Homo sapiens: one gene and its partner. The gene in region 2 interacts genetically with the main gene of each other region. Each region holds a gene or a part of one and is shown on either strand. Other genes may lie near its edges.

Evidence for each region.
Region 1: of FHL3 (region 2) and ZBTB16, changing one enhances a phenotype caused by changing the other (phenotypic enhancement), as found in Homo sapiens cells (one study listed by BioGRID).

The regions. Positions count from the first base shown.
Region 1 is NC_000011.10:114,062,554-114,079,146, reverse strand, and holds part of ZBTB16 (zinc finger and BTB domain-containing protein 16), read right to left. Parts: intron 15,937-16,593; 5' UTR 15,847-15,936; coding exon 14,579-15,846; intron 1-14,578. UniProt on the Homo sapiens protein: Acts as a transcriptional repressor. Transcriptional repression may be mediated through recruitment of histone deacetylases to target promoters. May play a role in myeloid maturation and in the development and/or maintenance of other differentiated tissues.
Region 2 is NC_000001.11:37,993,130-38,008,967, forward strand, and holds FHL3 (four and a half LIM domains protein 3), read right to left. Parts: upstream 12,386-15,838; 5' UTR 12,228-12,385; intron 6,304-12,227; 5' UTR 6,284-6,303; coding exon 6,128-6,283; intron 6,020-6,127; coding exon 5,845-6,019; intron 5,004-5,844; coding exon 4,834-5,003; intron 4,742-4,833; coding exon 4,555-4,741; intron 4,431-4,554; coding exon 4,276-4,430; 3' UTR 3,641-4,275; downstream 1-3,640. UniProt on the Homo sapiens protein: Recruited by SOX15 to FOXK1 promoters where it acts as a transcriptional coactivator of FOXK1.

The DNA of each region.
Region 1 (16,593 bases), on a different chromosome or scaffold from region 2:
TTCATCCAGGGTGCCTCCTTCTTCTTCTTCTTCTTTTTTTTTTTTTAATGAGACAAAGTCTTGGGCTGGAGTGCAACGGCAGGATCTGGGCTCACTGCAACCTCCGCCTCCTTCAAGCAATTTTCCTGCCTCAGCCTCTCCCGACTAGCTGGGATTACAGGCACCTGTAATCCCAAGCGATTTTCCTGCCTCAGCCTCCCCCGACTAGCTGGGATTACAGGCACCTGCCACCCAGCTAATTTTTGTATTTTTAGTAGAGACTGGGTTTCACCATGTTGGCCAGGCTGGTCTCAAACTCCTGACCTCAGGTGACCCACCTGTCTCAGCCTCCCACAGGGTGCCTCCTTCTAAAGCCAACCTTCTTCCCTTCATTCCATACTGTCCCTAGAAAATACCACGCCCGCCCCCTCCTAGAAAGTCTCCTTCTTGAGTGAGGAACCCCCTCCCCCTCAATTCCTGGGCTGTATTTCACTATCTTTAGCATCTCTTGGACTTTGAGCTAGCTGTTTCAACTTCCCAGTGAGTCTGTCCCAGTAGATGCCCCCTGCTCTAAATAGCACCCTCTGCGATCCGCAAACATTACAAGGACATCAAAACAAAGCTATCAGCTGGGTTCCTAGCTTTAGCAGCCAGTCTAAACTCTTTTGTTTGTTTCTCAGACAGCTTATTGACTAGGTGATGAGGTCAGAAGTTTTCTTTTCTCCTTGGCTCTTCAAGAAGCACCTGCAAAGTCAGGGAAGGTAGAAAAAGTCCACTCATTTAAGATTTCAGATGAACATCATTTTTCTGAGCATCAATTGCTTACCAGCCAACAACTTGTAGGGGTGGGAGACGACCAAGGGAGAAAAAGATGGGAACTTAAAAAGCAAAGATAACCTCCACCCTTTCCCATCTTGTATTAATGTGGGCATAGGCAACCCACTTGATGAAATGTTCTCAGAGACTCTGCATGTCCACATGAAGGAGGAGAAAAGTAGGTGAGGGCAGGAAGCTGATCAACCGTATGATAAATGCAGCTGTTGTATGTGACAAGCTACCTGTTTTCTTTCATCAGGCTCTTTCACACTTCTCCAGCCCACTAAAAGAGGGTCCTGGCTCCCCACCTGTCCCCTCCTTCATAACACACCACCCCTCACCCTGACCCCAACAGTTTATCTTTGCATATTGGAAAAACTGGCATTTATCAAGTAATCTACTCCTCATAGGTTGTTAAACAGACCACAGGGGTTATCAGTGGGGCTGATATAGGAAGATAAACAGCAACCTCTTATGCAAATAGCACTAAGAATGTGGGACTGGCCACAGGACAAAAGCAGAATTTAGGAGAACATGAATCTTAACACTTTTCTTCAGTTGCAACCCTGGAAACCCACAGGAACCTGGAGAAGGTTCTCTTGGGTGGGATTTCCCCTCCCTTTCTTGCAGGGAGGGGCAGGTGTGTCAGGAGGTGCAGCCTGCTTTGCAAGGCAAGGTGGCGGCTTCACGTCTGATGAGGCAACTCCTTTCTGTGGCCACAACCTTCTCCTCTGCGCAACAGCCGTTTCATTTTTTCTGAGATTTCGGACCCACTGGAACGTGCTTAGTTCAGGCTGAGGAGGAGTCGGACTAATTGAGAGAAAGAGAAGGTGTTCTCCCAGGTGAGAGTCGGGGGTCAGAGGGCAGTAGGAAAAAAAAATGCATAGAAAACAAGGAGTTCTGGGTTCCAAGATGCAACCCCCATGACCAGGAGATGCTCTTCAGATCTGCCTTTGCTGGGAAAGAGGCGGGAGGTGGCCTGGGGTCCAGGTGGCATCTTTTCAAACCCTTCTCATTATTTAAGGGCAAACTCACATCAAGAACCAAGAGGAGAGTGGCTCCAAGTGACAAAAGAATTACACTTAGAGGAACATAGCAAGCGGCTTCTCACACCAGGCTGCAGGCTGGGGAGGGGGAAAATGGGAGCAGAATGACAGAATCCAGGGCTGGCCAGAATGAAAGACTGAATGGAATAGGCTAATTTACACAGGAAGTAAGCACTTACCAGACCCTTCATCTCAACACACAAAACCCTCGGCCATATCTGGAAGCAATTACATCCAGTTAACATGATCTGCTTGCCACTAAAATTAACTGCAAACAGAAATATTTTTCACTTTTGCAACAGGGGATGCCAAGGTTTGGCCTATTCTCCCCCCCAGCCGTTGAATCTGGCTGCTGGGGAATATTTAGCAGCTACTCAGCTCAAAAAAACAAAAACTACTCTTGTAGCTGTCAGGACACAGAAAGTAAAATAGTGGATAATTATGAAGGGGGGAAAGGCGCGGGAGAGGTGGCAATGAAAACCATTGTGCTAGAAAGTGAGGAAAGGGGCCAGGCACATGGGCCCTATATAGGTCTGCATCCCTGACAAGTCCAGTCTGGTTTTCCACACTGAACTTCAAGGAAAGAAAAATGTTTTTAGAGTCACTCGATTTAGCAGCCGCTTCACATTGTTTTTAGGTACCATCTTTATCCCTTCTGCCAAGGGGGCGGGGGTGGGGGTGGGGGGAATGCAGGGAGGTAGACTCACAAATGTTAGCGGATCCTTAATTTAGCAGATCATTTAGGGGACAACTGTCACGATTTAACTTTTGCATTGAACATTTCCAATCCCTACTCTACAAACGCCTTCGAAGCAGCTTTCACCGGCTCTAAGCGGGGCAAGAGCTGCTTTTAATTTGAGACGTACACAGTTTTTCCACGTAAAGTGAAGAGAAGCCCACGAGGAGGTGAGAACTTGCCTCCGTGAGCGTGCGTGCCCAGAAATGAGCCAGTGGCCCTTTCTCCAAAACTCCAGATCCAGCCGCCCGACTCGCTGGCCACTCTAGTCCTTCGGCTTTGCAATCAGCCCCGCAATCAGATAAGAACTTATTTTTATTTTTCCTTGAACTGCTGTCAACGATGCCATAAATGCCAGAGACAGATGGACAGATTTCTTTTAAAGTTCCTGAGGAGGCGTCATCTCCAAACCCTTCCCCCAGCGGCCCCTCTTTTCTGGGCCAGATTCCGGCATGCTTTCCCCGAAAGTGCAGTTCACTCCTTTGTCACCAGGGGCCTTTAAAACGGCAGCGGCAGCAACAGCAGCAAAAGTAACGCATCCATTTGCCAGACAACTCACAAACATTTTTTCTCAAGAAGAGGCAGGCAGAAAAGTTCCCCTCAAGAATGAGGTCAGACACTGCTGTTCTCTGCAAAAATCACACTTAGAAACATTACTCATGGGAGAAACAAAAGAAAACGAACAACTTAAGTAGCCTTTCTTTAGGACTTTGGGCTATGATGGGGGGAAAACTTTTGGTCTTGATCTGTTAAAGAGCAAAAAAGCACTATGCCATTCTTTTTAATTTTTAAAAACTTAGGCCAGGCGCAGTGGCTCACACCTATAATCCCAGCACTTTAGGAGGCTGAGACAGGCAGATCACCTGAGGTCGGGAGTTCAAGACCAGCCTGGCCAACATGGCGAAACCCCATCTCTACTAAATATATATATATATATATACAAAAATTAGCCAGGTGTGGTGGTGCACCCCTGTGGTCCCAGGTACTTGGGAGGCTGAGGCACGAGAATCACTTGGACCCAGGAGGCGGAAGTTGCAGTGAGCTGAGATCGCGCCACTGCACTCAAGCCTGGGCAACAAAGTAGGACTCTGTCTCAAGAAAAAAAGAAAAAAAACCCTTAATTTTACAATGGAAAAAATACTGAAGTATACACATCCTTTCAAGTATACAACCTGAGGCCACACCACTGGCCGGACGCTGGGCCATGTATTCTCTATACATCACCTACTTAACAACACTGCTCTACCACCAGTATGAATCAGAAGTTATTAACTTCATCTCACAGATGAGGAAGTGAGTGGTGAGGAATCTTGCCACGGTCACACAGCCTCTAAGAGACAGAAGATTAATTCGAACCCAGGTTCAATTCCAGACACAATGCTCTCCAGCTTCTTACCACTTTGCAGCCAACAATCGCAGGAAATTTAGATGCTGCAAGAATGCAAGAAAAAGAAAAAAGAAAAGGAATCCTCCCATGAAATCCACCCACTCCCAGCAACAGCCCCTGCTAGCACGTGGGGGTCTCTCCTTCCCCTTGACCACCCCACACACACATGTACCTAGGCACATACGCTCACAACACGGCTCTGTCACTGCACAGCCGTCCAGGCATGGAAACGGTTAAGTCGCCCTCACTGCATAAATCAAAAGTTCAAGGCTGCAACATACCACAATGATTCCCTCTTTACATATGACAAGAACCAGAGAGGGGCTGAAATCCCAAGCATCCTGCACAGGGTCTCCCCGGCCCGCACAGGTTATGCCGCCAGGGTCAGGGCCGCGGACCTTTAGCGGCAACATTCATTTCCTGAACAGGACAAGTTCTCCTGACCATAAAGCTAATAGGAACTTCCTCGCACGGCGAGCTCCGGCTGACAGGGCTACTTGTCACTGGCCACGCAGGAGGAGAGCACTGGTTCCCATTAGTGGGTTATGATGCCAGGTGCTACTAATAAGGTACATCGGCAAGAAACAAGAGCCTGCTAAGTTGTCTCTCCAACTCTGGAAGTAATCAGGCCTGGGCTTCGGTGTTGGGGAGGGACGTTCCTTAAAGAGATGGGTTGGGGGAGCTGAGGGTTTTGCCATAGTAGACCCCAGCAGCACCTAACCTGCTGAACAGCTTAAATAAATTTCCAACAATCCCTCCACATTTCCCCCAGCTACCATAAAAAGCTCCCCCAAATTAACACTAATAATGGTTGCCCCAGCACTGTGGGCCCGATGGATCACGCTAAGGGCCATTATGGTCGGCCACATCTGCTTCTCACTATGGCAAGGAGAGCCGTGCCAACAGGCCTAATGGCATTAAGATCACAACGCTGAGCTAATCCACTTAGAGCACAACGCCGGGTGAGGGTGGCAGGGGGCTCAGCGGCTCCCTTGTCAGGCTGGGGTCATGAGAGAAGCAGGAAGTAGGGAGGTGGCCTCACACTCTGTGTGCTTTAGGTTACAAGTGATCTCATTAACATACTTTAAAAACCACATTGAGAGGTAGGGGCTAACCTCACTTCACAGAAGAGGATACTGCTGCTTCACAGAGGTGAAGTCATTTGCCCAAATTCACCATGGAGCACTAGTATTCAAACCCAAGTCCATCAGACGTCAGTCTTTCTGCCCCTGCAGTGCCACCCCATCTCCCACTAAGACGATGGTTTGGTGGCACATTTGACTTGTTCTCAGCAAGCCTGGTGGTGGTGGTTTATGTGCGTGTATATGTCTTTTCTTCTTATTTCTGGGGGAACCGAATGGCCCTAAAGAGGAAAGAACTCTAAAAACCACTTCAAATGGCCCAGAATGTCCCCCCTTCATCAAAATGTCTGTGACAGTCTTCTAACAACTTTCTCAGTAACACCCCAGTGTCTCAGGAAGTCCTTTCTCTTACCTAACTTGGACCCTTTCTACTGCAATGCTGAACACAATCTGTTCACACCGAAGAAAATCAGGTCCCGAGGACACAGTTGAAAGTGAGCTAGGAATTTAGAATTAAGGTTTTTCTAAGTATTTAGCGGAAGTTTCCATGCTGACAATAAAGTACCGGATCCCCTCCTTGCAGCTGCAGAGATAAGCCTCACGTAGGCAAAACCCAACCATAGTTTTTCCAGACTGCACCAGCATAATAAGGACACCGGGGCTTTTAAGGGGAAACAGTAGAAAGGGGAATTTCTGATTATGCTGGCATGAAATTAACAGCATGGGATTTTTATTTTTGTAAATGGGTTTCTTTTTTCTCTCTTTTTCTGTTTTTCAAGTCAGCATAAAAGGCCTCTATCACTAGAAGCTGATCTCTCTGTGTTGGTAAGAGATGACGTACTAGTCCTTGGATCCATGCGGCCTGGGCCCCTAAAGAGCTGAACCCTCTGCAGTAACCTTCCTCCTCGCAAGAAGCCACCAGAGGAACTGAGGAGGCCAGAGCTGGTGAAGCCATGAGCCCCCTGGTCACCCAGCTGCAGAGAGCATGGAGCCAGAAGACCTGAACATAAATCCTGGTACAACTCTTTTTTTTTTTTTTTTTTTTTTGAGACAGTCTCACTCCTTTGCCCAGGCTGGAGTGTAGTGAGTGGCATGATCTCGGCTCACTGCAAGCTCTGCCTCCCGGGTTCACGCCATTCTCCTGCCTCAGCCTCCCGAGTAGCTGGGACTACAGGCGCCCCCCACCACGCCCGGCTAATTTTTTGTATTTTTAGTAGAGACGGGGTTTCACTGTGTTAGCCAGGATGGTCTCGATCTCCTGACCTCGTGATCCGCCCGCCTCGGCCTCCCAAAGTGCTGGGATTACAGGCATGAGCCACTGCGCCCGGCCTGTACAACTCTTTACTAGAGAAAAGTCCACTAACCTCTTGGGCTTCTCTCCGCCCATCTGAGAATGTGAAACTGATACCCACCTTACAGGACAGCTAGAGGTCTTACAGAGATGCTGGCTGTGAGTGCACTTAGCACAGAATCTGACATGTAGCAAGCACTCAAAACAATGTCTGCTGAGTCCACATTTTAGAAGCATCCTGCACTGACAGGCAGGAAAGGGAAGGAGCTCTGGAACCCCCAACACCCACAAGCCCAGCCCCAGGACCCCCATCAGTAAGGTGGTATCTGTGCTCTTCATCTCTCTCATAAGCACAGTGATGTGCACGCCTGGCCACGTGCACAGGCAACAGGACACCGCATCAGTGAGCCTCCCCGGCATTTGGACCCGATGGCAGTGGAGCGCTGCCCGGCTAAATTTAAACGAGAACTGGAATGACTCACCAGGCCTCAGGTCAATGGGACAAAGAGTACCCTGGCCACCACAGTACAAGAGATCAGCTTCTGGGGAAGACGCAGAAGCAATGTCTCAGCCCCAAACATGAGGTGCCCGAGGCAGCAGTTTTACAGCACTGTACGGATTGACGCCTATGCGGAAGAACGGTCTCAGGGAGAAAGCAGGATCTGGACCAACATGAACACATTTTTCACCCTGCATGGCTAGCATGACCTACTTCACACAATGACAAGAAAAATACCCTAGCAAACACTTATGGAGCACTTACTTTGTGCCACCGTTCCTCACACAGGATAAATATTTTCTGATGAATCCTTATAACAACCCAATGAAGTAGGTACTACTATTATTTCTGTTTCACAAATGAGCAAACAGGCACACAGAAGTTAAGTAACACAACCACTGTCACAGTTAGTAAGTAGCAAAATCAGAAGTCTGACCTGGACAGTCAAAGTGCTCATTTCCTATCTGTAAAACGTGGGGGTGGGGAAGAGTTGTAGCAAATTTCTTACTACTTAAATAACTGCCAGAGAGTAAGAGCTTTCACCCCACACACCCAGCCAAAACAGAATAGAAAATCTTTAGTTATGGAAAATTCAGAAACCCTCCAATGGACAAACTGAGGCACACCTGTATTCATTTAGTAAGACTCTAAGTCATATATACTTGGGCTTTCAGCAGGGCTTGCTTTAAATTAATAAAAAAAATTAAAGTGATTGGAAAAGTTTCTCTCCTGAATTAGCAAGAAATCAAAGAGCTGTGAATAGAATTTGATTTTAACAGTTTAGGATAATCACTATTTTAAAGATTCATAATAGTTTTCCTAGAACGAGCAGGAGGAAAACGTGTTGCTAAACTATAGCTTTCTCCCTCCCAGCAATTAGCGGCTCCATCCAATAGTGATGGCAAATTAAAATGGGACTTCTCACTGAGATGAAAGAGTGGGCAACTTTCCTCCATTGAAAATAAAATAAAGGAAATCATCTTCAAAAGTTCCAAGAGTTCAGTCTAGATCCCAGATGGCTCAGTAACCCTAAGCAGGTTAAAGTATTTTAAAAAAAAAAAAAAAGTCAGAACACACAGAATCAAATCAAACTGACCCCCTACTTAACTGGCTGAACTGCCAATCCAGATTCCAAAACAGCAAAATTCAATTAACCAAAAGGACTTCATGAAGATATAAGTGGGTACACAAAGAATAAAAGAATTTTTTAAAGAGCGCAACAATCCAGAAAGAGCTCACTGAAGTGCCTAGTTTTAAAAATGAAGAAGTTAAGGCTCACGATGAAAAAAACGATGTCAATGGTGACAGAGCTGAAAAACGCAGAGCTAGGTCTAGACCTGGCCTCACCACTACAAAGCCTTCTGCCATCTTCCTATCTTCACAACCAACAACCTCTCTCCAAAAGACCAGATTTCCAGGAGCCCAGGAGATTATAAACTTGTCATTCATCACCCCTAAAAAGGATACTTCCTGGAAATGGAAATGGATTCAAAAAGGATTTTGGCAAATCTGTGAATGACAAGGCAGCCATAAATAGCTACTAAGAGAAGCTACACCTGACCTTTAGGATTGACGTCAAGGAAGATGGTTGTAGCCTCCAATGGTGGTATCTTAGGCATGGTGATGGCAACCAAAGACTAGGTCAGATGGATTTGACCCAGAAGAGCAATGCTCATGTTCTTATATGGCCTGGTGCAGAGCGCCCAGGACTGTGAATTAGAAGGCAAGCTGAGTGCCTGGTTCTACCCATTTATAGCTGTGTGACCATGGGAAGTCACTTACTTGCTCCAAATCTCATTTTCCTCATTTGTCAATAGAGAATGATAATCGTTCATAATCCCTTATCCAAAACCTTCAGGTGCTTCAACGACCAAAACTGTTCAGACTTTAGAAAGGTACTCTGGGCCGGGCGCGGTGGCTCACGCCTGTAATCCCAGCACTTTGGGAGGCCGAGGCGGGTGGATCATGAGGTCAGGAGATCGAGACCATCCTGGCTAACAAGGTGAAACCCCGTCTCTACTAAAAATACAAAAAATTAGCCGGGCGCGGTGGCGGGCGCCTGTAGTCCCAGCTACTCGGGAGGCTGAGGCAGGAGAATGGCGTGAACCCGGGAAGCGGAGCTTGCAGTGAGCCGAGATTGCGCCACTGCAGTCCGCAGTCCGACCTGGGCGACAGAGCGAGACTCCGTCTCAAAAAAAAAAAAAAAAAAAAAAAAAGAAAGGTACTCTGACACCTATCGTGTTTAACAGCCCCAGCAGAGTCTAGGGCAGCACTCTGTAATCAAACACATTAATATTTTTGCAGCAAAACATATGAATATTCAAACTAAGCAGGATAAATATAGCCTCACATCAGTTCAGATCAGGTTTTGCCACTAAATGAGTTTACTGCAAACTTTTTAGTTTTCAGAGCTTTTCAGACTTCATTATCACAGATATGGGATTATGGACCTGTACCCACTCAAGGAAGGCTGTGAGGGCAAGAGAGATAAAGTCATTAGAGGTGCTTTGCAAAGAAGAAAATGCTGCAACCGATAAAAGGTATTATTAATATCATTGCTGTGGCTATCATTATTCTACAGCATACCCTTTTCCAAACAGAATTTAGTTTGACATCAGAGGTTCTGGACGGGATGATGAAAGAAAACCAAGAGTCTCAGGAAACCTCAAAAATCCCAAAAGTAGCCTAAACCAAGGTCAACACCTGTTGGCCTTCTACATGATCAACCACTAAAAACAGAGCAGCTGACCATCTGAGAGAGACCAAGGCCAAGGGCCAGGCAGAACTCTGATATCTTAGCCACAAAGCTCATGCACCGTACAGCTGGCTCCACAAAGCCTCTGGGAAGGGCTGTACACACGGATCCAGAAAGCTGGCTCAGACATTCCCTGTGGTTCCTGAGAATCCCTTCAAGAACCAGGCAATAGGCCGGGCGTGGTGGCTCACACCTGTAATCCCAGCACTTTGGGAGGCCGAGGCAGGTGGATCACGAGTTCAGGAGATCGAGACCATACTGGCTAACACGGTGAAACCCTGTCTCTACTAAAAATACAAAAAATTAGCCGGGCGTGGTGGCGGGTGCCTGTAGTCCCAACTACTTGGGAGGCTGAGGCAGGAGAATAGCGTGAACCTGGGAGGCAGAGCTTGCAGTGAGCTGAGATCGCGCCACTGCACTCCAGCCTGGGAGACAGAGCGAGACTCCATCTCCAAAAACAAAAAGGAACCAGGCAAGAGTTGCGACGGTGTCTGTGCAGGACATCCACTGCAGCTGACCTAAGTGCTTGTCTGTATAAGATCCAGAAACCAGACCCCATTGTGCCTCTGCAGCACTAAATTCAGAAACACATAAAGACCAAGCTGCGTGAGCCATGGGAGACTAGGGACTATAAATGAGGACTATGTTCACACTTAAGTCTATAGAACTATACTGTTCCCTGCAATCTTATCGCATATGTACGTAACTCTGAGAATGATCAGGTGCTCCTGGCCTGGATGAGCTGGTTCCTAGACCATTTCCAGAGAAGCCTACATGCAGAACTGCTCCAGCCTTTTGGAATAAGAAAGGGAGGGCCCAGTGTTCCAGAATCCTGAGATGATCTTCCCCTCCCTCAGGCATTATCCTCTGTAATGTGGATGCACTGGTGAAGATTTGGGGGCCCAAAGCTTGCTCCTTCATCTGCCTGCAGAATACTGCTTATCTATCAGATCTTCCCACTGTTCTGACTTCCTTCTGGTTTGTTTAGGTAAGTCAGTCCCATTGGATGCCTTTGTCTGGTCTTCCCACCCATCCATGACTACACTTGACACTGCATCCCTTTTACAGCACGTCATTCCTGCAGTGGACGGCTTGTACATCTTGCTGTCCGCTGCAGGAAACAGGCTCTACAACTCCACTAAGTTTGATTCTCACTATCTGTTGAGCCAACAGCTTACCCTTCACTCCACACCAGCTTGGGATCAAATCATGGGGAAACTTACCGATGACATTCCATAATAAACTCCCTGCCTTCCTGCCTCACTTACCAGCAATCCGCCTTCATTTCCTCTCCATTCCCTTCTGCCCCCCCACCCCAAGAAGAAATGCAAGAAGGACTGCTGGGTATCTAGTCTTTACCAACACTCAGGCCTATTGACTTAAAAATAAAATAAAATAAACCCTGTAGCCTGTTATTTTATCACTGATATATTTCCAGTGAATGCCATGGCTTCCTGGCCTCAAAATCTCCCCTTCTGATTTTTTTTTTTTTTTTGTCTTGGCTTTTTGTTTGTACTGGTTATAGGGCTGTTGTTTTTTTTTTTCCACCATAGCATTTCTCAGACTGCTGATGGGTTGGGGGGAGACAGAGAACAGTAGAAAAAAGGGAATAGCACATTAATCCTGGAGTTTTGAGGGTGAGGGGGAGAAAAAAAGCCTTCTACAAAGTACATCTAGCTGGGACCCGAGGGGCTGTTGATCTGAGTGAGGGCTGAGCACACGCAGGATTATTTTCTCCCCTTTCTGATTTCTTTAGACCCCCAAGCTTCCCATCAAAGGCACTGCCCCTGGCTCTAACTTCTTGGGCTGCAGCTGCTGACTTTCCACCCTCAGTCAAAAGCACATTCTCGGCCCAGCAGGGTGGCACACACCTATAATCCCAGCACTATGGGAGGCCGAGACAGGTGGATCACTTAAGGCCAGGAGTTCCAGGCCAGCCTGACCAACATGGTGAAACCCCATCTCTACTAAAAATACAAAAATTAGTCGGGCATGGTGGTACACATCTGTAGTCCCAGCTGCTCAGGAGGCTGAGGCAGGAGAATCACTTGAACCCGGGAAGTAGAGGTTGCAGTGAGCCAAGATCATGCCACTGCACTGCAGCCTGGGCGACAGAGTAAGACTCTGCCTCAACAACAACAACAACAACAAAAGCACATTCTTCCTGTCAGCAGCCCACATGTGACACGGAGGATTCCAGGGCCAGTGTCTTGCTGTCATATGCTCACAAGGACAGGGACATTCTCTGCACCACCTCACAGTCAACACAACCCTCATGGAGGGTGGCACTGTGGACACTACACACTAGAACTCAGAGCCAATGAGGACCATGCAGAGATGAGGCCTAAACAACACAAGGGACAGATGGTCAGTTCTCCACCGCTGCGGTGACTATGTGCCCATCACAGCTCTAGTGATTTCTGGATCTTACTTCATTAATTCAGCACCAACCCTGTTGACCGTCTCCATTTTAAGAAGTGAGTGAAGGCCGGGCGGGGTGGCTCACAGCTGTAATCCCAGCACTTTGGGAGGCCGAGGTGGATGGATCGCAAGGTCAAGAGATCGAGACCATTCTGGCCAACATGGTGAAACCCTGTCTCTACTAAAAATACAAAAAATTAGCTGGGCGGGGTGACAGGTGCCTGTAGTCCCAGCTACTCAGGAGGCTGAGGCAGGAGAATCGCTTGAACCCGGGAGGTGGAGACTGCAGTGAGCTGAGATCACGCCATTGCACTCCAGCCCGGTGACAGAGCGAGACTCCGTCTCAAAAAAAAAAAAAAAAAAAAATGTAGTGAGTGAAACAAGGCCCAGAAAGGTTAAATAAGTATCACAGGCTCTCACCACTAAATATGGCCAATTCCAATACCCAGGCTCTTTCGAATATAACATGGCCAACTCTCCCTCTCTCCCCAGAGGAATGAGGGTCTTGCTGAAGGGGAACTTGGAAGTCTCAGGAGAGTGGTATCTTTTGTGGCCCTCTCGGGTAAAGAAAAGCAACCAGGAACCAGGACCTGATGAGAGCCAGAAAAACAATTACTTCCCACCATACCCAGTTCTCATAGCACACAGCCGAAATAATTCACATCCGGAAAGATGATACATCTATCTGGTCAACTTTGGGGAGCGGGTTTCCTCTTTAGGAAAGTTTGAGCAAAAACAAACACAACCTCAGTCTATTTCTGAGCGGTACAAGCATCAAGAAGACACACCTTAGTGGCGGTTATTTTTCGCACCCACTGGAAAAAGTCGGCTACGTTTAGCTCTGCCACACTTTCCACAAGTTAAGCCTCTGAGCTGTCGAGGAGGCAGGGTCAGAGCAGATTCCGGCTAGGGGTGATGAGATCAACTTCCAGATATCCCCACCCCAACCCCTCTCACTCACATCCCCCGTACCTGAACGAGCAACAGGGGAATGGGGGTGAAGGGGGAGGAAGTGGAGAATCCACCCAAGATCAGCAAAACAGCAGACCACAGGGTATGCAGCCAAATGCTGTCGTCAATGACAACAGAAAGCTGGATTTCTTGACTCCATTCATCTGACCCAGAAACTAGAGGATAAAATGATGGGCACGTGGTTTATGACAGAAGCAAGGAAAAAAAAAACAAACTCGCTACTTATCCCCCCTGTTATTTACTCCACTTCCTATAAGCAATCTTCAAAACGCTCTGTTCCATAGACATGATCCTCTTCAAGTCTAAGTGACTCCAAGAGGCAGCAAAGTACCAGGGGGTAAGGACCTAAATTTGAATCCAGCTCTGCCTCTTACTATCTATGTGACCCTAGAAAAGAGACTTGACATCTGAGCCTTAGTATTGTTCCATGTAAAAGAAGGACATTACCAGCTGGACACGGTGGCTCATACCTGTAATCCAGCACTTTGGGAGGCCGAAGCAGGCCGATCACCTGAGGTCGGGAGTTCGAGACCATCCTGACCAACACGGTGAAAGCCCGTCTCTACTAAAAATTCAAAATTAGCCAGGTATGGTGGTGCGTGCCTGTAATCCGAGCTACTCGGGAGGCTGAGGCAGGAGAATCACCTTAACCCGGGATGCAGAGGTTGCGGTGAGCAGAGATCACACCATTGCACTCCAGCCTGGGCAAGGAGAGCGAAACTTCACATCCAAAAAAAAAAGAAGGACATTACCTATCTCAAAGGGCTGTTGTAATGAAAATGCAACTCATGGAAAGTGCTTAGTACTGAACCAAACATGTCATAAGAGCTCAATGAATGGTTATTTCATAGAGAAGGAAACGGAAGCCGGAGGGAAGCCAATGCTAGCCTGAAGCGGCATTTAGTTCAGTGTGAGCAGAGATGGGATAAGAATGAGACTTCACAGGCTGCAAGACCAAGACTCTTATACCCATCCTTTCCCCTTGCATTTAAATCAATTCCCCCTAAATGCATGTGCAGGATCAGAGAATGAGAAGGGAGACAGAGCAAGGAGATTAACTTTCACCAGGAATAAGGTTCAGAACCTGCAGCTGCTCTTGTGGCTTAAGCAGCCCCCAGACCCTCCCATTCTCCCAAGCTGCAGAAAGGGACAGGCTGTCTTCACAGGGACCACTGCATGGGAACCCGAGGACCTGAAACCTAGTAACATGGTCAGATGCAGGGCCCAAGAGACCCTCATCCCACTCCTTTTCTCCTTCTCTCCATTTTATCAGTCACTCCAAGCAAAGGAGAACAGACCAAACAGCCGAAAAAACAAACAGGGGCCCAAAAGCAAAAAACAAAGGGAAGGGCCTATTAAGAAGCTGCGCCCATGAGTGTCCCCTGGTGCTTTTTGGAAAGATCCTAGGCCCCCTCACTACACTTTAAAAAACCTGCTCCCCTCCCCGCCAGAACTTTAGAAGAAGTGTTCTGGTTTTTTCACAAATTGCCAAGACAGGGGAGCCAGGCCCCTAACTTGGGAGCAGCCAGGGTGTGAAGGAGGGGTGTGAGGGCCTCAAGTCCTACATCAGGTGCGGGGCTGGAGCGGGGCCTACCTGTGCTGCTCCACAGCCTCGTTATCAGGAAGCTCGACCCCACACACGCTGCACTGCTCTCCGATGGTCCGGCTCTCTGACTTCATGCCCACAGCCAGCTCCCCCAGCTTGCTGAACAGCTCCCTCTGGATGAAGCCCTGGGGCAGCAGCCCCCCATAGGTGCTGAAGTCCATGGAGACAGCCAGGGCAGGCTGCACGTGGAGGCCAGAGGTCACGGAAGACGGCATGCTCAATACAGCGTCAGCCTTGTGGTTGGGCAACACGGAGTAGATGCCCAGATGCTTCTCAGGCGGGGGTGCTGGGTGCTCAGGTCGGCCAGTGGGGGCCTGGCCAGCCTCAGCTGGGGGTGGCACCTGCTCGGCACTCTCCTCTCGCCCATAGTGTAGCTCCCTAGCACTGGTGATGACGCTGCTTCGAGTCGGGGTCCCAGGCCCCTCTTTGCCTCTTTCCTCAACCTTGTCCCCCATCCCTCCTGAGATGCTGGACTCGGCTGCCCCAGGGCTGTCCTGGCTGGGCACCTCATCCACCTGCATCATCTCCGTCTTCACCTCAGCCACCCCAGGGTGCCGCCCACCCCCAGCCAGAGTTGGCTCCTCGGGCCCTGCAGGTGGCTGAAGAGTTCCCTGCAGGAGAGACTGTCCTATGGTCATCAAACTGTCCACTGCAGCCTTGGTGGGACTCATGGCTGAAAGACCAAATGAAGTGGAGACTGAAGGGCTCTGGTCCACCATGGGCCCAGGGAGGCTCTGTCCAGCCACACTGGCATACCCACTCTCCTCGCTGGAATGCTTCGAGATGAAGATGTTCTTGAGGTACCGAGCCTTGCGGTCCTCTTCTTCCTCGGCCCCGCCATCGGCCATGGTGGCCTCCGTGTCATTGTCGTCTGAGGCCTGGATGGTCTCCAGCATCTTCAGGCACTGTTCCTCCAGGTACTCGATCTCCAGGATCTCGGCCGCATACAGCAGGTCATCCAGGTCCTCCGCCTTGGCTTGCAGCGTGGCTGTATATGCATACTCCAGAATCTGCTGGAAGGTCTTTGGCGAGAGGAAGTCCAAAGTATAGTGTTGACTATTGCGGTGGAAGAGGATCTCAAACATCTTGCTGGTGCAGGCCAGCACCGTCCGGTGGGCGTGGAACTCCTGGCTGTCCACCATGATGACCACATCGCACAAAGTCCCGGCCAGCCGCATCTGGTTGGCCTTGCACAGTAGCCCCGTGGGGTGGCTAGGGTTCTGCAGCTGGATCATGCCCATTTTTGTCAGATCCATGGTGCTCCCCTCGGCTCAGGCATGAGGCTTTCTTTCCTTCTGGGCTCTGCGTGGCGGGGCTGGGTGGGCTTCCTGGGCCAATAGAGGAGGCTAGGAGAAAGAAGAGGGGAAGAAGCAAAAGAGATGAGAGAACAAAAGACAAATTCATCAGTGTCCCTAAAAGTAAGAATTCAACCACTACAACATGCCCCCTCCTCCCTGTTGCCAAGCCCTTAGCAAGAGGATCTTAGAGATTTTAATTGAAGTAGCTTCCTAGAAATCTACAAATCTGCCTTTCAAGCCAGGGATGCTGAGAGTAAAAAGAAGGTTCTGCCACAGCAGATGCCTAATTCACTACTCTATGACATCTGTTAGATGAAGTGAAATGAAAATTGTAGTGAAGTCCTATAAGTCCTCAGCTTTCTCTGTGTCTGAGAGTAGGGGCTCCCTAGGCAAGGCCAACATTCATTATGATGAAGTGCACTTACTTAAAATTAGCAAGACTTTAGCCCCTTCCTTGTCAGCTTCACGCCAGCCCCCTGGATGTCAAGCCTTATCTTTAAACAGTTTTTCCAAACTCTGCCTCACTACAGGAGCCCCAGAAGCAGAGTCAAACTCATTGGAGGCCAGGAGCCTGTAGCCATGGCCACAGAAATCTATGGACACTGGGCTCTCCTCCGCAAAGGCTATCCTCTCACCATCAGCCTTGGCCTCTGGCCTTCTACTGTTCTCAGGGCTGCAAAGCACTGGCAGACCCAAGGCCTGTCC
Region 2 (15,838 bases):
TTTTTTTGAGACAGGGTCTTGCCAAGCTGGAGTACAGTGGCACAATCTTGGCTCACTGCAGCCTCGACCTCCTGGGCTAAAGCTATCCTCCCACTTCAGCCTCCTGAGTAGCTGGGACTATAGATGTGCGCCACTACACCCTGCTAATTTTTGTATTTTTTGTAGAGATGGGGTTTTTTGCCGTGTTGCCCAGGCTGGTCTCAAACTCCTGGACTCAAGCGATCTTCCTGCCTTGGCCTCCCAAAATGCTGGGATTATAGGCATGAGCCACCAGACCCGCTGTAATTTTTTAAAAATTTTTACTAGAGATGAGGTCTCACAGTGGTGCCCAGGCTTGTCTGCAACTCCTGAGCTCAAGCAATCCTCCTGCCTTGGCCTCCCAAAGTGCTGGGATTATAGGCGTGAGCCACCGCACCCAGCCCAATTTTTCTACAGTAAACATGCATTACTTTTTGTTTTTAAAAGTTTGAAAGCAGGCTGGGTGCAGTGGCTCACGCCTGTAATCCCAGCACTTTGGGAGGCCAAGCTGGGAATTTCGCTTAAAGCCAGGAGTTCTAGAACAGTCTGGGCAACATAGCGAGACCTCATCTCTACAAAAAATAAGAAAATTAGCTGGGCTTGCTGGCATTTGCCCGTACTCCCAGCTACCTGGGAGGCTGAGGCGGGAGGATCACTTGAGCCCAGGGGTTTGAGGTTACAGTGAGCTATAATCTTCAAGCCTGGGTGACACCCTGTCTCAAAAAAGAAAAAAAAAGTTTGAAAAAACGGAGGCTGGGCATGGTGGCTCACGCCTGTAATCCCAGCACTTTGGGAGGCCGAGGCGGCAGATCACGAGGTCAAGAGATCAAGACCATCCTGGCCAACATGGTGAAACCCCTGTCTCTACTAAAAATACAACAAAATTAGCTGGGCATGGTGGCGCACGCCTGTAGTCCCAGCTACTTGAGAGGCTGAGGCAGGAGAATCACTTGAACCCGGCAGGTGGAGGTTGTAGTGAGCCGAGATCGCGCCACTGCACTCCAGCCTGGCGATAGAGTGAGACTCTGTCTCAATAAATAAATAAATATAAAATGGAAATAGTGACCTGTGTTTTGCCCACTCATGAGGGTGTTATGGGGATCTTATTTGTATATCGGAAATTTAAGCAGGACTGCCAAGCTTAGGGAAAGGACCCAGTCACAACTCATCTGGGGCTTTTCCTGGGACATTAGGAAAGAGGTAAAGTAGAAATCTCCATTCAGGGAGTGGGGAGACTCAGCAAATGTTTTTTGTTTTGTTTTGTTTTTTGGGGGGTATAAACTTGGAGAGCTACTGTATTTCTTGAATACGAGATGCCATCAAATGTAAAACTCAGTATTATTTTATGCTTTACTAAGGAAGAGAGAAAAAATTGTCAATTAAACAATGACACACCTTTGATTATATGTCTGGGTTTCTTTTTTTTTAAGACGGAGTTTTGCTCTTGTCCCCCAGGCTGGACTGCAGTGGTGCTATCTCGGCTCACTGCAACTTCCATCTCCGGATTCAAGTAATTCTCCTGCCTCAACCTCCGGAGTAGCTGGGATTACAGATGCCTGCCACCACACCCAGCTAATTTTTGTATTTTTAGTAGAGGCGAGGCTTCACCATGTTGTCCAGGCTGGTCTCAAACTCCTGACCTCAGGTGATCCACCCGCCTCGGCCTCCCAAAGTGCTGGGATGACAGGCGTGAGCCACTGCGCCTGGCCTTGATTATATGTCTGGGTTTCTAAGATGTTAAGTCTGAAAAATGTTTGTATTGAAATAAATCAAACAATTTTGTAGCTGCACATCTCTCACTTCCTGTTAGGTGGGTGGACCGCCTTACCACCACCATCCTCCAGTCACTGTGTCTCAAACCTGATGCCTTCCTGCCCCTAAATGTTTCTTCATCCCCACTCCAGGCAGCAAGTCTTGCCTTTTCCACTCGAGCTGCTACCTGCTGCAAGATGTCTCACCCGGACCACACTACACTAGCCTCCGAACCAGCCTGCTCATCTTACCCCTCCACTCCATTATTCATGCTGCAGCCAGCATGATCTGTCTACAACTCTGCTCATCACAGGCCCCTGCTTAAACAGTTCCATAGGCTGCATTTCCTGCAGGGTGAGGTCTGTGCAACTTGGCATTCGGCTTTTTAGGACCTGGGCTCTGCCTGCCATTTTACTCTCCTGGCACTTCCTCCAAATGGAATTACTTGCTACTTCCCCAAAGCACCGTATGTTCTCAGGCCTCCAGGCCTTTGCGCCAGTTGTTTTCTATGCTTGGACTGCTCTTCCTCAACAAGTATTTACTGAACACATAGTAAGTGCCGGGAGCTGAGAACGAGAGCGGGGAGCAAGGCAGGCAGGATCTCAGTCCTTAGGCTGGTGGGAGAGAGAAACAAATAAAACCGTAAGCATATGTGGTAATTATTAATTATAAACACACGTGGTAGGCATTCGTAAAAGTTTGTTGAAAATGTCGGGGAGGGAACTTAAGAGGGCGGGTCAATAGTTGCAGCAAACCACCGTGCACACGTATACCTATGTAACAAACCTACACGTTCTGCACACGTATCTTGAAACTTAAAGTAAAATAAAAAAAAAAAAAAGAAAAGAAAATGTCAACCATGGCTTCAGAAAGCGGTTAGAGTCCAGGATCTACCAGTGACTACCTATGTGACTTGGGGCAGCTGACTGCAGGCGTCTCCACCTCTGTGTAATGGAAGTAATAATGCCCGCCCACAGGACGGGAGGAATTAATATGAGATACATACAATCTGGCGGTTTCCGCCGGGCCGGAGGGGCTCTCCCACTCCAGGGCGCCGAGGGTCCGCCTGCCCAGGGCCGGGCCTCGCTGCAGGCAGCTGTGGGCGCCACTGTGTGCGCATACCTGCCCCGACAGCCGGACGGTCGGCCGAGCCCAGACCGCGGCAGCCAGGGTCAGGGACAAGGGACGTCGGACGCCGGGCGGGCGAGGGGAGCGTCGCCCCGCCCATCTCCCCACTTTGGGGGACAGCCCCCCTCGCTCATTCCCGCCTCCACCCTTGACTTGAATCACTGTTGGCGGGGGACGGGGCGTGACCCATTCATGCCGGGAATCGGATCCAGATGTTCCCGCGGCGTGTGCAGCTGCATCCTTGCCTTTTTTGGCAAAAAACGTGCGGCCGCGAGAGGATCCTGGGCCGCCCTTGCTAATCCTTGGGAAGAGGGGGAAGGGGGCTGAGAGGGTCTGGGCCCAGACTGGGGATCGGAACCAGGTCCTTGCTCTGCGGGCTTTGGGCAGGGCTGTTGGCGGAGGAGACTATTCGTACCAGCCAATTAAGGAACCCCACCGCCACCCTGGCTTTCATCTGGAACCTCCCCCAAACCCCTCCCTTCCCTACATGAGGGAAAAAGCCCTCTGCCAGCAGGGAGGCAGGACGAGCTCCAGAGGGAGGGTAGCTGTGGCGGGGATCCCCTTCATGGGGAGAGACTTCCCACCCCATGGCCCGGCCCCCCTCCACCCCACCCTGCAAGGATGAGGTCTAGCAGAGATTCTGAGCCTCCCAGTCTGCAAAAACCCTTCCTTCCCCATTATACCCTGAACACACACACACACACACACACACACACACACACACACACACGGAGGCCCCTGCTTCCTCACACCGCTTTATTGCAGAATCTGGAAGGGGGATGAGCCAATCTCACCCCTCTGCCCATCTATGGGCAAAATGGAGCTGAAATAAAATGAGAAGACACTCGGTGGCGACCTGCTGGGCAGCACCCTGTACCCTAGGGCCCCTTATCAGTGGGCTCCTGATCTGCTGCCCCCACAGCCTCAACCGCGGGGATGGGGTGGGGCAGGTCAAGCCTGAGAACAGTCCACTTTCAAGGACTTCCCAGGCACCCATAGGAGACCTGAAACCTATAAAGAGAAGTCTAGATTTAAGGGGGCCTAAGTCCCAGAGTCCAGGTTTGGAGGGCTCGGGTCTAGAGCCCTGATTTGGGGAGAGGACTCAGTCTGGGAACCCAGACTGCAGGGGAGAGGGTGAATTCTGGAGTCCAGGTGTGGGGAGGGGGCTTGACTCATGGAGGCTCTGTAAGAGCCCAGGTTTGGGGCCCTGGGTCAGGGAGTACCAGTTTGGGGATGCTGGAGTGGGGAGACAATCCTGGAGCCCAGAAGGAGACCCATTTTTTTTGGCGGGGGGAGCTGAGTCCCAGAGGTGGTTTAGAAAAGGAGCCACAGTCCTGGGCCCGTGGTATGGGAAAGCCTGGGTCCAGGAGCCCTGGCTTAGGGCCCTGCCTGGCTACAGCCCTGGCAGAGCACTTGGTCTCCATCCGGTACGAAGCCCTGGCCCACCAGGGAGGTAGAGCAGCGGGCGCAGGAGAAGCAGTTGTGGTGCCAGTGTCGGTCTTCAAAGGACACATACTTGCCTCCACCGAGTCCTGGAGGGAGGCTGGAAGTTAGCTATGCAGATGTGGGGATGGTCCGGCCCTCAACCTCACCCAATACCACATCCCACTCCCTTGCCTGCACCCTACCCACTCCGTTCTTTGACCCTTGTCCCACCTACGATGGGGCGCTTGCAGCTGCTGCACTTAGGTGCAAAGAGTTCTCCAAAACAGGCCACACAGTAGGGATCTTCATCCCGGGAGGTGAACTGCTGCCCTGCCAGGGGCGTCTGGCATCCGGTACAGACCAGACATTCTCGATGCCACGGCTGATCACGGTATGTCACTCCACCCTGTGTCAGCGTCTGTGGGGGCAGCATCCATTAGTAGGTATGAGTGGGGATTCCCACCCCACAACAGGCCTCACTCACCCCCACCTGGCTGGCCCAGCCCCCACCTTGCTGCAGCGGGCGCAGCGAGGAGCAAACTTGTTCTCATAGCAGGGCACGCAGTAGTGAGCACCCTTGTCGGGCACAAAAGAACGGGAGCCCAGTGGCTGTTCACAGCCACTGCACAGGAAGCAGTGCTCATGCCATGTCTGGCCTCCATATTCCAGCTTCCGGGACCCTGTGGGGAACAGGGGTCCCATTTAGAGGTTGTGTCCCATGCTCCTGAGGGCCACCCTCTGTAACTTCCCCAGGAGTCTCCACTCCTCTCTCAGCGTGAGCAGGGTGGTGTCCGTGCACATGCAGCAAGAACCCCCCCGCCCTATGTATATTACACATGCTAACCTCTCCCCAGACACCGGACATGATGACCCAGCTAGACACGAGGGTTTTGGCCTATGTTAAGCCCCCATATGTCCCAGAGATGACAATTTCAGCACACATCAAGCCTCCATGTAACAGTCATGAAGTCTCACTAAGAGCTAAGCCCTCATATAACAGATGTGATGATTTTAGCACTCACATGGGACCCCACATGTACCAGGCAAGTAAGTATCTGCCCACACAAAGTTCTAATGCCCTGGGCATGACAGGTTCGGTACATGCTAAGCCCTCGCATCTCCTCGGCACACCATTCTCCATAGGTGCTGAGTCCCAGCATTTCTATTAGGCATGCAGGTCCCCACACATGTTAAGCCCTCTGTTTATCTGCTTCTGCATACATTAAGACCCAATGCAACAAGCATGACAGTCTCAGCACACCTCTAGTTCCTACCTGTACTAAACATGCAGATATTCACACATGCTAAGCCCCCAAGTATGTATCACATGTGTCAATCTGCCTGTACATAGTAGCCCCCAGGAGTATACCAGGCAAACAGATCCCGTATATACTAAATTTCCAGAAACATGCTGTGTATGCAGGTCTTTACACAGACCAAGTCTCCATGTATCAGACAGACACATGCAAAGACCCTACGCAGATGCCAGTTCTCACACAAGATGAGCCCCTGAACACATACCAGGCATGACAGTCTCCCCACAAGCGGAGCACTGCGAGGAAAACGCACTGCAGTAGCAGTCATTGCAGAGCAGCTCACTGTCCTGGCAGGTGAAGGGTTCATCGGCTAGTGAGCGCTGGCAGCGGCAGCAGCGGAAGCAGCCCTCGTGGAAATGGCGGTCTTCATAGAACAGCTCCTGTGGGGAACACAGCAGGGGCACTGGCACCCAGGCCTCATGGACCCATCCTTTGCCCCCTTCCACTGGTCACCACCCACCTCCTGCCTGGCCTGGCCCTCTCCTTACCCTCGAGTCATGCCCGATAAGCTGCTGGCACTCAGCACAGGTGTTGGCAAAGGTATTGTCATAGCAGGGCACACAGTAGGGGCCGCTGTCTGTCTGGATGTACTTGCGTCCATACAGGGACTCGTTGCATTTTGCACAGTCAAATGACTCGCTCATGGTGGCAAGGGGAGAGAACCCTGTTAGGAGCACAAGGTGGAACTGGGGTCACACAGAGAGGCTGTGGCTTGGCTCCTGGCAAAGAGGCCTCTGCATTCAAAACACAGCCAAGAGACCCGGCATAGGAAATGCCAGTTCAGAGTAGGTGGGGATGGGGAAGGGGTGCTTCTGGGAAACCAGGAATCCCACATGTTTCTTTCTGTATTTAACTCGGGGTAGGAAGAGGTCAGGAAAAAAACCAGGAAGCAGAAGTTGTTTTCTTATCTAGGCCCTAGCAGATCTAGGGGGAGGGGGCTTTTCCTGGGTCAGTGACTCATTTCCTGTCCCAGCCAGCGTCTAGCCTCCACTGTCCCGACTGTCCCCAGCGTGGGAGAAGCAGGGGCAGGGAGCCACCCCACTCTACTCCTTATGAGCAGTACTCCCACCCTCTCCTGACTCCCAGGAAGGGACTTTAGGAATATGGATAAAGGAACCCTTAACCAGAGCTCTGGAGTACAGAACTTAGAGACGGGAATGGGCTGTGCCTGCCCCTCCTGATCCAGAAAACAGTGGAATGCTAGAGAGGTGCTGGACTAATGAATGGTAGAAGAGGCCAGTGTGAGAGGTTGGGCCTTCCCTCCCGGGGAATCAGCCAAGCAATGGGAACTTCAGAGGCTCAGCTTAGGTTCAAGCAGGAAGGAAATCCTGCAAGCTGGACACAGCCAGTCTTCCCTAGCTAGACCCTCTGCCCTCATCCCCCCACCCCCGCTGTGTCACACCAGCTTGGACAGCCTTGGCCTGTAACATCTGCAGCAGCTGTGGCGGCACAGATGGCCAGATGTCAGGTTTTGCCAGCAATGGGGAGAAAAAAGGAAAATGAAGTGTCGGGGGAGGCAGAGGGGAACTGGAGACAGACTGGGAGTGCAGTGTACCCCCTGCCACCTCCTGCTAACATCTGGCAAAACCCCAGGATCTTTCCATCCCCTGGGGTCATGATTTCCCTCCTACTGCCTCTGGGAGAGAAGGTCTCTCCCACCTTTTCCGATTTCTCAGGGTTTGGGACTAGGGAGCTGAAAGGAGAGAGAGCAAGAGCCACTGAAGACATTTTCTCCCCAATCAGGCCCCATCTTGGGTGGGGAGTAGGACAAGGGGGAGCCCTGAGAGCTGCTGCTGGAGACACCCAGCCCCCGACCAAACCTCAGACACTTTCCATTTTCTCAGGAACAAAGCATGTTTGTGGGATGAGGTCATCCACACAGCTGCCTCTGGAACAGGAGCCTAGGGAGTGGAGCGGTAGGGAAGTGGGGTTCCCAGACCTTTCTGCTGCCCCGGATTCCAGTCTCTAGCCCCAAAGTCAGAGCTCCCACCCCTGCTCTCCTCCATCATGAAGGCTGCTCTCTAAGGGCTGGGATCCTGGGGTAGTGGAGAGGAACCACCAGGACCCATAGGAAGGAGATGTTCTCACAGCTGTGGATGAGCCCGGGGAAGTTACAGGGACACACAAAGGAATCCACCAACCCACTCTCCCACAAGGCTCCAGTGCTGGCAGTCGCCAGGGCCTGCCCTGGCTCAAGCTGAAGGAGAAGTCCTCCTTTTCTCATCCACCCCCAGTGCGAAATTCTTGACAACAAGCGCTGCTCTGGCTTGAAGTTCAGACTCCAGGCACCAGCAGATGCCCCCAGCTTGGAGGCCTGACTCTCCATACATCAAGCCTCTGCGCAATGGGAGAACAGCCAGCTTGCGCTCCAGGCCAGGGCATGAGGCCACCAGGGGCCAGGGTCTTTAGAGCTGGAACTCCTGGGCTGGGGGCTATGGTGTAGAGAAGATACTCCTCTTTCTCAGCCCCCTTCCTGCCACTCAGGCCCAGGTTTCCTCTGGCCCAACATCTGAGGATTGCCTGGGCTGTCAGCCACGGGGCAGCAGGGGGCCACACAGGTGGAATGCGTCCACAGGGGGTGCCTGGGCCTCTTCCTTCCTTCTTGGCTTGGCCCACTGCGGCTGCCACCTTCTCAGGCCCAGGCTAGACTTGGGTCCACCCCCTGAGAGACAGTCAGCACTCCGAAACCAGGGCAACCCAAATAGGGTATGGGCATGGCTTCTATTTCCTTCCCAGAATCCCCCAATGCCCTAGTCTATCCAGCTGGGCTCTGGTGAGGACAGAGTAAAGGGCACCAACAAGGCCCACCTGTCTCTGCCCATACCCCTCTCCCTGCCCTTTTCCCTGGCAAGGCTGGGGACTGCGGGGACTGAAGGGAGCCAGCCTTGTATTCCTTCCTGACCGGCAGTGGGGCGGGGTTTGGGGGAGACTGCTCCTCTACAGATGGCTCACAACCCTGCACCTCCAACAATCTCCCCTCACAAGGCACCTCCCAGTGAACCTCCTGGAGCTCAGAATGACTGCGTAACTGGCTATGGTGTATGGAGCAGCTCAAGCTGTAAGGTTTGAATCCTGGCTCCTGCACTTACTGGCTGAGTGATCTTGGGCAAATCCCTAAGCCTGTTTTCCCATCTAATTAAATGAGATACTACCACTTCCTACCTCCTAAGTTTGTTGTCAGGCTTAAATGTGATGATACTTGTAAAGCACCTGGCAGATAATAAATACTCAGAAAATGGTAGCTATTAGTATTTTACTATTAGCGCCCTCACTCATACTGGGGCCAGATAGCAGTTTCACAGGCAGGTCTGGGTCAAGCAGCTGGACTGGAATTTTTTTTTTTTTTTTGAGACAGAGTCTCGCTCTGTCGCCCAGGCTGGGGTACAGTGGCGCAATCTCGGCTCACTGCAACCTCCACCTCCCGGGTTCAAGTGATTCTCCTCCCTCAGCCTCCCGAGTAGCTGGGACTACAGGCACCTGCTACCACGCCCGGCTAATTTTTTGTATTTTTAGTAGAGACGGGGTTTCACTGTGTTAGTCAGGATGGTCTCGAACTCCTGACCTCATGATCTCCCTGCCTCAGCCTCCCAAAGTGCTGGGATTACAGGCATGAACCACCACACCCTGCCTGGACTAGAATTTTTAAATAGAGATGGGGTCTCAATATGCTGCGCAGGCTGGTCTCAAACTCCTGGGCTCAAGCTATCCTCTTGCCTTGGGTTCCCAAAGTGCTGGGATTACAGGCATGAGCCACAGTGCCAGCCCAATTTTTTTTTTTTTTTTTTTTTTGAGACAGGGTCTCACTCTGTCACCCAGACTGGAGCGCAGTTAACTCCATCTCGGCTCACTGCAATCTCCACCTCCCAGGTTCAAGCGATTCTTCTGCCTCAGCCTCCCAAGTAGCTGGGATTACAGGAGGGCACCACCATGCCCAGCTAATTTTTGTATTTTTAGTAGAGATGGAGAGTTTCGCCATGTTGGCCAAGCTGGTGTCCGCTCAGCCTTTTTGTTTTTTTTTTTTGTTTTGAGTTGGGGTCTCACTCTGTTGCCAGGGCTGGAGTGCAGTGGCACGATCATGGCTCACGGCAGCCTCGAACTTCTGTGCTCAGCCAGGTGAGGTGGCTCACACCTGTAATCCCAGCACTTTGGGAGGTTAAGGCCGGTGGATCACCTGAGGTCAGGAGTTCAAGACCAGCCTGGCCAACATGGTGAAAACCCATCTCCACTAAAAATACAAAAATTAACTAGGCATGGTGGCGGGCGCCTGTAAGCCCAGCTACTCAGGAGGCTGAGGCAGGAGAATTGCTTGAACCGAGGAGGTGAAGGTTGCAGTGAGCCAAGATCATGTCATTACACTCCAGCCTGGGCTACAACAGCAAAACTCTGTCTCAAAACAAAACAAAACAACAACAAAAAAAACAACTCTGGGCTCAAGCAAACCACCTGCCTCAGCCTCCTGAGTAGATGGGACTACAGCCATGTGCCACCATGCCCAGCTAGGTTTTTCTATTTTTTGTAGAGATGGGGTTCTCACTATGTTGCCCAGGGTGGTCTTGAACTCCTGGCTTCAAGTGATCCTCTGGCCTCAGCCTTCCAAAGTGCTGGGGTTACAGGCGTGAGCCACTGTGCCCAGCCTGGTCTGAAATTTGACCTGGACATTCTCAGCATAGGCCCAGGGAGAGAATAGGGGGCCCCAGGCCCATGGGGCTTGCTGAGGACACCAGTGGGGAAAGTGGTCGCTTCAGTCCGGTCAGCCTGACTCTAGTAAGCTTAACTCTTGAGATCTCTCATGCAGGTCCACGGATGTAGACACCTGCATGCTGCTTTGCCACTCACAAAGTCCATGCCCACCACAATCTCATCAGATCTCACAAAAGGCAGGCAGGACAGAGTATCATCCCCATTTTACAGCTGAGCACAAGGAGGCCAGGAATAGAGCAGGTTCATGCCCAAGGTCCCGATCAGGACCCAGGTCCCCTGCCTCCCAGCCCAGAGCTCTTCCCTCTCCCTAAAAATGCTGCCCTGGTGATGAAGCGGATGGTGACATGGGGGTGGTCAGTTTTTAAGGGCAGGGGAACAGGAGATGCACCAGAGCCTGGCTCTTCTCCTCAGCTGCTAGCCCTGTGATTGGAAGACACCCAGAAGCCTTTCCAATGCCCCATGCCAACCATTCAATCCTTCTGCCCCCACCCCCAACATGCCCACTGTCCAGGAGGACCCTGGCCAGGTCCCACAGCTGTGAGTCAGGATCAGAACAGACCCCTCCCCCACCTTCTAGAAGCTGACAGGAGACTTAAGGGGAGAAATCCAACTCCCTCAACCCTCACCCTCTGCTACCGGGCACCAACCCCAAGCTCTGCTCTCCCCCATGTGGCCTGGAAGTCAGAGAAGTTTAGGGAAGGGGGTTGGGGAGCAAGATCCCGCAGCTGCTCTGGGGACATGAGAGGAACAGTTCATTCACCCTGGGTCCCCCAGGGCTGAGGCAGCCCATCCAAGATTTGAGTTCAAAAATAAGTTGGGGCTGTCTTGGTGGCTGTGTGTGTGCGTGGGGCTCTTCTTGATCTCGAACTTACTGTCTCAGGGCCTCTGCCTCATGGGGGATCGGTAGGCTCAGAGTTTCTGTTTCCCCACAGCCTCACCTCCCAATGGTTCAGGCCCGGGTAAGTCAGGGGCTGTCCTGGAAGCTGTCAGACCACCTAGGTCTCTCTGCCCCCACTTAGTCTCAGTTTCTGGTGTCTGTCTCTGCTTCACTCAGCATCTCTGTGTCTGGGCACACTTCAGTCTCTGTCTTTAGGTTTTGGACGGCTCTGTATCTTGACTGGCTGTCCCCCAGGGGGCCCATGCCTCTGTGGATCTCAAGTCTTGGTCTCTTCTTGTCTACATGGCTGAATGTCTCAATCCCCACCACCTCCCTTTCTCTGTCTCTGCATCCAAGTCTCTTTCGCCACCTCTGCACGCCTGAATGTCTCTGTCTCTAGTCTCTGAGCGTCTCTGCAGGCCTCAGAGAGCAGATTCAGCATGAGGCCAATGACGCCCAAGCCTCAGGGCACCTCCAAGGCCCGGGGAAGGGCCCTAGGGAATGTGTTCGCTGGGGTCCCACGTATGCTTTTTCTGAAAATGCTCCACAAAGCCTAGGACGGCCCCCATGCCTCGGGTCTGTCCACCAGTAACTCTGTACGCCCGGTGTGTCCTTGTTTCAGTGGTCTCGGTAGCCTCCTGTGCCTCGAGTCCCTGCCTGTCTCGGTCTCTCGCTCCACCGGGCTTTCCGAGAACCTCAGTTTCTCCAGCGCTTCTGGTCGGTCGGTCTGTCTGTCTCTCTCCGGCTTTTCTATTTCAAACTTAGCCCCCTCCCCCGCCCAACTCTCGCTGCCGCCCCCGCCCCCGCCCCGCCCGATAGCCCGGAGGGGTCCAGTCCCGGCGGGCGCTGTCCCGGGCTCGGCGTGCCCCGGGCACCCGTGGCCAGAGCCCGGCGGGTACAGGGGACCGGGGCCGCGGCTGGCCTCAGCCCTCCGCGGGTCCCTTCGCTCCCCGGCCTGGGCGCGGGGGCGGACCGCCAGGGCTGGGAGCCGGGGTCGGCGGGGCGCTCACCTCGAAGCGGGCGGCGGGAGCGGGGAGCGCGCGGCGCAGGCGGGGCCGGGAACCGGGCGCCGCGTCCCTCGGCGGCTCCTACCTGCGGGCCGGGCCAAGCGGGGGCCGAGCGAGCTGCCGGCGAGGCTGCCGACTGCAGACGGACCGTGTGGGCGAGTGGGAGCGCGGCCCCAACCCCTCCCCGAGGAAGTGAGCGCGGGCCCGCCCCGCCCGGACCCCGCCCCCGGCCCCCCAGCCCGCCGCGGGGGCCAGACCCCGCCCCCACCTCCCTTTCGGCCGCCAGTCGGCCCGGCCCCCTCCTCCCGCCCGGCCTAACCTGGCTCTCCCAACCTTCAAGCGGCCGGGACCCCGCCCCTGTCCCCTCCCCGCAGCCTCTGTTCTCCTCCCCTCCCACCCCCCATCCCCAGCTGCCAGAGGGAGACTGCTGTATTCCATCTCAGGCCGGCGACACGAGACCCCGCAGACCATGGTCCACTGGGGGAGTCCTCTGGCCTCCTCGGATCCCCCCACCCCTTCACCTTACCCCAGGGGTGACACTCAGCCCGGCCTTAATCCAGCCTGGAGGAGGACGTTTTGACTCTGCTGTCATGAGCCTGTCAGCGGGCACCAAGGTGTTCTCTGAAAACATGGGACGAAGAGAGGACCCCTCCCCACCATAGGGCCTTGACCTCCAAAGGGTTTTATTCCACAACTTTGAGTAGCAAAAACAGGGGTAACCACCTCCCCACTTCCAGCAGCCTCCTGACACTGAGAAGTCCTGCCTTGCCTGGGTTTCCGCAGTGCCCAGGAATAGTTTTGACCTTTGAGGCCCGGGGGAGACCCTAATCCTCGGCCCCATGATCTTTGGGCTTCTAGGGTGGGGTGTGAGGAGTGTGAGAGGATGGGGCACCTCAGGGGTGGTGGAGGAGAGGGGAGGGGACCTCTGCGGTGTCTGAGCCTCTGGCTTCCTCCCTGTGTCCGTGAGGGAGGACTGGCGCCTGCTAGGGACACGAGGCCCCTCCAGGTCCTTAAGGCCACCCCCCCTGGGATCCTCAGGCTTGTCACTAGGAATAAATAGCCTCAGTCTGGAAGAGGTGGGGGAGGGAGGGAGGCAGGAGGCTCTACTGTGCTGTTTGTGGAAACAAGAGACAACAAATCAACCCCGGAATAACCTTAGCATCTAGAGTGAAGATTCAGGTGCCCACAGAGGCCTCCCCACACCCCAGGCTGGGTGTAGCAGAGCTCTCACGGAGGAACTAACACCCTCCCAGGCTGGGGCTCCTGAGAACCTTTCCGTCCCATCTCTGCATCATGCCTGGGTTCCTGGGTCCCAAGTCACCCACCAGGTCTGGTTTCCTTTCAAAATTAAATCATTGCTTGCTTATTATTGCTGTTGTTGCCTAAATGGTAAGAGCCATGAAGGCAGGGCTCCGTTTTGTTCCCCACTGCCTTCTCAGTACTTACTCCAATATCCGGCACATAATAAACATCTGATGAATGAATGGATACCAGACACTGCTTCAGTATGTATGCCCCTCTAACATCCTCGGTTTGGATCACAGGCACCTGCTATCTGGAGTCCAGGCAGTGAGCATCCAGCCCATGGATGGGGCCTTTTTCTGGGATTTTTTTTTTTTTTTTTTTTTTTTTTTTTTTTGAGATGGAGGCTTGCTCTGTTGCCCAGGCCGGAGTGCAGTGGCGCACTCTCCGCTCACTACAACCTCCACCTCCCAGGTTCAAGCGATTCTTCTGCCTCAGCCTCCCAAGTAGCTGGGACTGCAGGTGTGCACCACCACGCCCGGCTAAATTTTTTTTTTGTATTTTTAGTAGAGACGGGGTTTCACCATCTTGGCCAGGCTGGTCTCAAACTCCTGACCTCAAGATCTGATCTGCCTGCCCCAGCCTCCCAAAGTGCTGGGACCACAGGCATGAGTGACCATGCCCAGCCTCTCTGGGATGTATCTTGCAGGTGTAAGAGACTCCCAGCCCAGGGGAGTGCAGTGAAGACTACTCAGCCTTGGTGGAGTGGGTACCAAGAGGAGGTCAGCTCTGGGGGACGGGAGGGCAAAGGTGGGGAGCCTTCAGAAAGCAAGGGGTTATGAGTGAGTACAGAAGGGGCCTGATAAAAGGCAGAGTATTGGAATCTCTGTTCTTGATGCATGGCTCTAATCTCTCCTAAATAGCCTTAATGAGAGCCAGTACTTCCTGAGTTCTTTCTTTGCACCAGTCCTGAACACTTTACATATATTGACATACCTGATTATTCAATAACTTTATTAAATATATGTGCATCTATATTTGTTTGTTTTTGAGACAGTGTGTTGCTCTGTCACCCAGGCTGGAGTGCAGTGGTGTAATCACGGCTCACTGTAACCTTAACCTCCTGGGCTCAAGCGATCCTCTTACCTCAGTCTCCCAAGTAACTGGGACTACAGGTGTGGGCCACCACACTGAGCTAATTTATTTTAATTTTAATTTTTTGTAAAGGCAGGGGTCTTATTAAGTTGCCCAGGCTGGTCTTGAACTTCTGGGCTCAAGCAATCCTCTTGCCTCAGCCCCACAAAGTGCTGGGATTACAGGCATGAGCCACTATTCCTGGCCTAAATATATATTTTCATCCTCATTTTAAAGATGAGAAAATGGAGGCACAGAGAGATTAAGTAACCTGGCAAGGGCGACACAGGTAATAATGGCAAAGCTAGGATACAAATCCCAATGGTTGGCCGGGCTTGGTGGCTCTTGCCTGTAATCCCAGCACTTTGGGAGGCTGAGGCAGGAGGATTGCTTGAGCCCAACAGTTTAAGACCAGATCTGGGCCAGGCGCGATGGCTCACGCCTATAATCCCAGGACTTTGGGAGGCCAAGGCGGGCGGATCACGAGGTCAGGAGATCAAGACCATCCTGGCTAACGCAGTGAAACCCCGTCTCTACTAAAAATACAAAAAAATTAGCCAGGCGTGGTAGCAGGTGCCTGTAGTCCCAGCTACTCTGGAGGCTGAGGCAGGAGAATGGCGTGAACCCGGAAGGTGGAGTTTGCAGTGAGCCGAGATTGTACCACTGCACTCCAGCCTAGGTGACAGAGCGAGACTCCGTCTCAAAAAAAAAAGACCAGATCTGGCAACATAATGAGACCCCGATCTCTATTAAAAAAAAAAATCAAACCGACTGGGGGCGGTGGCTCACGCCTGTAATCTCAGCACTTTGGGAGGCTGAGGCAGGCGGATCACGAAGTCAAGAGTTTGAGACCAGCCTGGCCAACATGGTGAAACTCTGCCTCTACTAAGAATACAAAAATTAGCTGGTTGTAGTGGTGCATGCCTGTAATCCCAGCTACTTGGGAGGCTGAGGCAGGAGAATCGCTTGAACCCAGGAGGAGGAGGTTACAGTGAGCCAAGATTGCACCACTGCACTCCAGCCTGGGCGACACAGCAAGATTCTGTCTTGGGGAAAAAAATAAAAATAAAAAATCAAATCTGGACAGTCAGAAGTCATAGCACCCTATGCCAAAAATGAGCTTCACCATTAGGCTCTAGTATCTGTAGTCATTTAATCTCTGTGAACCTCAGTCTTCTCACTGTGAAAAGTGAATGAGTCTGCCTCACAGCATTGTTGTAAGGATTGGATGAGAGCAC